2 linked regions of the Homo sapiens genome follow. Changing the gene in region 1 together with any one later gene gives a genetic interaction. Each region holds a gene or a part of one and is shown on either strand. Other genes may lie near its edges. The genes, in order: NUS1 and EGFR.

Region 1 (2,908 bases):
TTCACACTGTAATTGCCCTTGAGTAATTGGAAATGGTGGAGGTAAGTGTTGATTTCTAGGTTGCTCACAACATGGCTACAATATTTCATCATGTTTGGATGCTGTGTGGCTCTGCCCAACATTAAGCATGGCTTTCCTAAACTAAGTAATATTGGCTTTACTCTGACCAAGGAGAAATTCTTTAATGGATTTAAATGAGATCCTTTATACATAGATCTCTAGCTTTGCATTAATCTGAGCTTACGCTTTAACAAGTTATGAATCTCTCATTACTAGTTGCTTTTCTTGTGGAAAAAGAGGCATATTAATTTTTTAGTTGATGATGACATTGTGTGTCCTTGTCATCTCATTGTCCACAATGAGCTGAACAATCTTAGTAGAATTGTTTGGCATATTCTGCTTATAATTTACCCTCAGAGCAGAGGGAATAGCTATCTTCAATGAACACTCGTCAATAAACAGTGAGTGCCACTACCCCTCGGTGCCTCAGAGGCTCTCTGCTATTTCCCAGTCAGTTCTGTCAGGGCCCCACCCTTTCAGTCTACATATTATGATTAAGACATTTTCCGTGCCTGTCATGGTGCTGTCTGGTGGAGGATAATTTGGTGTATTCTATTCTTAACTTCTTTTTGGTCCTTATCTTCTGGTTCCCCCCTACATTACAGTGTATATCTAATTGCTTTTCTCCCCCCGTGTTTTCTTTTCAGCTCTTTGCCTTCCCACCTAAACATCAGTTATGAGGACTTTTTCTCTGCCCTTCGTCAATATGCAGCCTGTGAACAGCGTCTGGGAAAGTAGTGGTCATTGGTTGCATAATTTGATTTGAGGCTTGTGGAGGAAAGGAACCAAGTGACTCTGATGTTTACAAAGCACCTATGAAACCCTGTACACACCTAGTTCATAATCCTCATAATTTATCAACAAACACAAAAAAGTGTCTTACTTGAGAGTGAGTGTGTGTGTGTGCGTGTGCACGTGCACACATGTGCACGTTTGTATGTATGGAAATAAACTTATAAATGGGGACGTATTGGAGAAGGAAATACATAGACCTACAACTTTGAGCAAATAGCAGTGATGTTTTAGGAACTGAAATGTCACACTTAAAGTCTTCAGCCCAGCTACTTCCCTATTTTTGTGGGGAGAAGAGGGCCTGATTAGAACTGTTCTGGTTGTGTTTGGCGGGAGGGGAATAATTTTTGTTCAGTCCTTCTTAGTGACCAAACTTTAATTTTTAAGAATAATATATTGACTTACTGAACTGAAGCATTCTGAGTTGAAAGGAGCTCCAGAGGAGTGGAGTTCTGTGTTGCTCACATGTTAAAATCTTGCTCACCTTCAGAGCAGAGGGAATACCTATCTTCAGATATCCGTCCATTTTCATCTCTTAATTGTAGTCAAAAGTATGACTTGAGAGTGTTGCTCTGGTATTCTGGGTTCTGAAGTCTGGTATTCTGGTATTCTGGGTTCAAAAGTATGACTTGAGAGTGTTGCTCTGGTATTCTGAGAGTTGCTCTGTATTCTGGGTTCTGAAGATTATTTGAAAAATAACTCCTACTACATTGAAATGCAGACTTAAAAATTTAAACATTGGATTAGGCAGTCAAAAAAACCAAGCAAGCATAAAAGGTCAATAAGTTGTAATCTTGATAGTAAAGGTGGAAAACTTATTATAAATGGAAAGAAAGTTTTATTTCCTTTTTTGTTTGATGGGCAGTATGCCATATTATACCCAAAGTTCTTTTAAAAAATATTTCCATCAACCATTTTTATTTAAAATAAACATTTGAGGGAAGTTACCAAGGCAGCTTTTTTCCTCAAAAGTAACCTGTTCCTCTTTGGAATAGCACATTTTAGGGGCATGGTTAATACCTGAGATTTTTACTCAGTAAATCCTGATGGTTACTGTGTGTAAAATATCTTTAAGTAGGATTGAAGGCCTCTGTGGGGGAATAAAATATTACCAAAGTCTATAAAAATAAATTTTACATGTTCTCTTTTATGACAGAGAGCAGCACTGGTTCTGTTATTTTTAAAATGAATAATTGATTTCTTGATAGGTGTTTAATATTTCTTCCCTCACTGCTGATTCTTAGATAGAAACCATTCTTTATATTTGATAGACTGCTTTCAGAAAACCCTTATCAACAAGTGTACAATACTTATCTAAAACTATACATTTAGAATGGAGCAGTTTAATACTAGATCTCAGAAGTTTTGAAAAATAGCAAAGAAGACTGGATTTGGAAAGCATGGTCTACAATTGGTTGTTAAATTCTGAAGCTATGAAGAATAAATGTTTCAACTTTGGATTATGAAACCCCATTTATGATTTTTTAAATACACTTGAAATAAAAATGATTAAACTAAATTTTGGTCCAGTGACATTACTTTGCACTGCATAATCCATTATACGTTGTACGACTTTTTTTTTTTGTTTTAATTTATTACTGAGAGTTTTGTGTGAAGCTACAGCATATCTAACCAGAGAATTTCTGATTCCTTATACTGTGATTATATTATATTGAGGCATTTGTAGTGCAGCTGAAGACTGAATTTATGCCTTTTGTAAACATGATAGGTATAAATGTCTTATAAACATTCTGGAGTATGTATAGCTTTAATGAATGAAATTTAATGGACCTGATTAAAATGAAGGGATTTAATCGTTGTTAAAGTTAAGTTAGTCAAATAAATTACCTACTGGAATATAGCCCAAGCCAGTAAAGGTTTAATATTTGCATTTTCGTGCTTTTATTTTCTCCTTCCATTCATAAGTATATACTTGAAAGTACATCTGTAGCCTATGATTTGAGTCTCTTGAAGTTCTAGGAAGAGGCAAACTACAAACTACTAGGATTCTGATTTCAGATGTAGTCATTCCAGAACCTTCTCTTTATGAGTTCAC
Region 2 (3,500 bases), on another chromosome or scaffold:
GCAAGGGGAAAGGGCCCAGGGAGCCGGCTCATGACGATGAGCCTGTCTGAAGCTTCAACGCGGGCTGTCCGGCAGTCTGCATTCCTGCCGAGTTCCTCAGCCCTCTGTTGGGTCACCTTCCATAGAGGCAGCTTAGTCCTCAGTTCAGTGAGCATGGAGTGGAGACTGCTTGAGGGGTGCTGAGCAAAGCCCTGCCTCTTACAGGATGAAGGTGCTCTCCAGAAGGGACACTGGAAAGTATTCCAAGGCGAGTCGAATTCCCAACTGAGGGAGCTTTGTGGAAATAAGCCCGCCCAGCCCCACTTCTGGAGACGTTCCCATTCAGTAGGTCCGAGCTGTCTTAAAGAGAAACCAAAGTGGGGATATTAATGGTATCCAAAGTGAGATCTACCCCACCCTCCCTCCTCAAAGGAGGTCAGATCAAGAAAGCCCAAGCCCGGCCTGGCAATTGGGACCTTTCTTCTCACTCCAGCCCAGGGTGAAGGTGGACAAGTCACTTTGACCCTTCAGGCTTCTGAGCTGTTGTTTCTGAATTCAGTGAATATTTACTGAGTGCATAGAATATGCTAGATATTCTGGGCTAAAGGTTGAAGGGGGGGTGAGTTTTAAGGGTTTCTGCTCTTGCTTCCAGATTGCTTTCAAATCTGGAAAGGACACCAGTGGTTTGTGTGTTAGACCCACACTGCCGTAGCACAGAATACAAGAAACTGGCTGAGAGCTCCAATAGGCTTTTAACAGTAATTTCTGGCTTCACGTATTTAGTTTCATAACTCATGATTTTTCAAAAACTTCTGGTTTGAAGACACCGATTGCCGAAAGTCCATTGTGCTGCATAATTACACTTGGTCCACGTGACAGCACTAACATGTTCTGAAATGTTTTTAGAAGTAGTCTCAGCAAAGATGAAGGATTCCTCCCTGTTTGAAAAGAAAATATTCTTTGTTTTTTCTTTGATCTAAGCTCTAAGACTAGCAGCTAGCATCTGAAACTTTTTTGACGAGAGTGACAAACCAACTCTAATATTAAAGGCAATTGATGATTATGGGCACTGAAGGGAAGGTAACCCCAGGCTGGTGCCCCGGAATAGGGATGGGTCACAATGTTGAGGACATTTCGCCTGTTGCAGAACCCACCTGCAACACAGTGTGGCCCTTGCCATGTGACTTGTGTGTGTGCCTGTGTGTCTGTGTGTGCGTGTTTTAATTTTGACTTCATAAGTACTCTAGTTATGAGCTTATTTAACATTGGGTTTTACTAATAGGGGTATGTGTTGAGAAAATTTCAAAGTTTTAGAATATGGTTCACCCACATGTTGCTTCCCTGTAAATATAATTTTTAAAACCAGATTCTGGGCCGGGCATGGTGGCTCACCTCTATAATCCCAAAACGTTGGGAGGCCGAGGCAGGCGAATCATGAAGCCAGGAGTTTGAGACCAGGCTGACCAACACGGTGAAACCCAGTCTCTACTAAAAATACAAAAAAAATTAGCTGGGCGTGGTGGCAGGTGCCTGTAATCCCAGCTACTCAGGAGGCTGAGGCAGGAGAATTGCTTGAACCCAGGAGGCAGAGGTTGCAGTGAGCCAAGATCGCACCATTGCACTCCAGCCCGCGCGACAGTGTGAGACTCCATCTCAAAAAAAAAAAAAAAAAAACAGATTCTGTTCCTCAGATCCATTCCATTTTTGTTTTCCTTTATCACTTATGGACATTTGAAATTATGGTAATAAACATTGTTAGTCTCAGTTAATTATTACTGGTTTATTCTTGAACCACTAATCCATAGAGAATAGAGTGTAAATCTTAACTTGTTCCTGTAGGCCATCCCCATTAAACATCATAGTGTTTTCTCATTCGTTCTTTTTCGTTTTCCTCCTACAGGAATGAATTTTCTAAGAAAATTCCAGCAGTTGGCTCTTTGGACGACATCTCTAGATTGTCCTCCATTGGGCCCATAGGCACAAGCTGGCCAGTTTGAATTTGGGCAAGAATCCAGGCATTGGAACTTATTCAAATAACTAGTTTGCCTGTAATTTTCACTTTTTCAGAGTCATCTGATAAAGCTTTCTTGCTACACATTTAGATAGATACACTCAATCCAGTTGTCTAGAAAGTTCCCTGAGCCAGCTGGGAGCAGGAGGGGTAGTTGGGGCCAGGAATATTGGGGGTGTGTTTACTGAGCCCCTAGAAAGTAAGTGCTAGATTTGACATTTCAATCCCTGAAGGCCCTGAAGTTCAGTATCAAATGACTGGTCCTGTGGACTGAGCATCTGTGAATTGCATATGCTTAGAGTAAATTTTACTCCTACCAGTTTCAGCAGCTTGCTTTAGCAAGCAGTATGGAAACACTAACATGGGGGAGTAGAATTTCTCTCTCTGATCCAAGTTTTATCTCATTCTGGTGGGTTTTCAAGGAGAGACTCGGAGTCCAAGTGTCCTTTCTGAATATATCTGGAACTTCTCATTAACAAAAGACTCAAGTTATAATTTAGGGGACAAGGCACCCAATGAGAATGCCTTGCAGGCAGCCCTAAGTACACCTGCAATTACACCATTACTAGCGCGGCAGCACACATGGCCCTGACTTAGTTTAAATAATTACGTAAGTCAACCATGATTGTTTGCCCTTTGCATAGAAGGGCAAGTATTGGTACCTGTTACAACTTAGGCTTTTTTTTCTTTATGTTTGAGCCATGATGAGTGATTTACACTGTTGCATCCATATGTTGAGATGTAAGAATAAATTAGACTTGGTAATTGCCCTTAAGTGTCTGGAAGTCAACTGGGGAAAGAGAGCTAGAGATAATAAGTGTGAAACAATGTCACAGAATCAATGACGGAACTCTTCCCAGGACAAAGGATGACTTTTGAGTTCAGTCTTTGCCTTTAATTCTACATGGGGAGGAGAGCACGTTTAGCCACAAATGGAAGGGATTACTCATTTGAGCTATTTGGTTATATGATTATTTCCCCAGAGAATAGGATGTGCAGGGCATTACACAAGCAGTGCCAATAGCAGCAAAGTTCTTGAGAGTGCTAGTAATTCAAATGGCAGGAAGAGAAGGAATAAATGGTAAGGCTACCTACAGTTCACAGAGAGCTCCATCCTCACTGTGGCTTTGGATTTTGTCCTGTGTGAAAGAGAAGTGACTGTGAACTGACATGCTGTGTTTGGTGTTTTAGAAAGATGGCTGCAGCAGCGGTTTGGGGAATGGACTGCAGGAGTGGCATTGGAAACAGGAAGGTTCATGACTATTGCCAGAGACAGAGGATGAAGCAGGAGCAAGGAAGATTCAGGACAGGGGACTCCGGGGCTGATCAGGAGGCAGAACTGGTTGATAAGTATATGTAGCAGCATAAGAAAGAAAGAATCCCAGATTGACACCCAGGCTTCTCACTTGGAAGCCTGGATAGATACTGAATGCAATCACAAAGGCTGGGAAGTCAATGGGACTGCAGGGAAGGGAAGGGAAGGGAGGAGAAGAGGAAGGGCAGGAGGGTC

What was found.
Region 2: changes in NUS1 (region 1) and EGFR together harm fitness more than expected from each alone (negative genetic interaction), as found in Homo sapiens cells (one large-scale study listed by BioGRID).

The regions. Positions count from the first base shown.
Region 1 is NC_000006.12:117,706,218-117,709,125, forward strand, and holds part of NUS1 (dehydrodolichyl diphosphate synthase complex subunit NUS1), read left to right. Parts: intron 1-707; coding exon 708-798; 3' UTR 799-2,908. UniProt on the Homo sapiens protein: With DHDDS, forms the dehydrodolichyl diphosphate synthase (DDS) complex, an essential component of the dolichol monophosphate (Dol-P) biosynthetic machinery.
Region 2 is NC_000007.14:55,022,017-55,025,516, forward strand, and holds part of EGFR (epidermal growth factor receptor isoform a precursor), read left to right. Parts: intron 1-3,500. UniProt on the Homo sapiens protein: Receptor tyrosine kinase binding ligands of the EGF family and activating several signaling cascades to convert extracellular cues into appropriate cellular responses.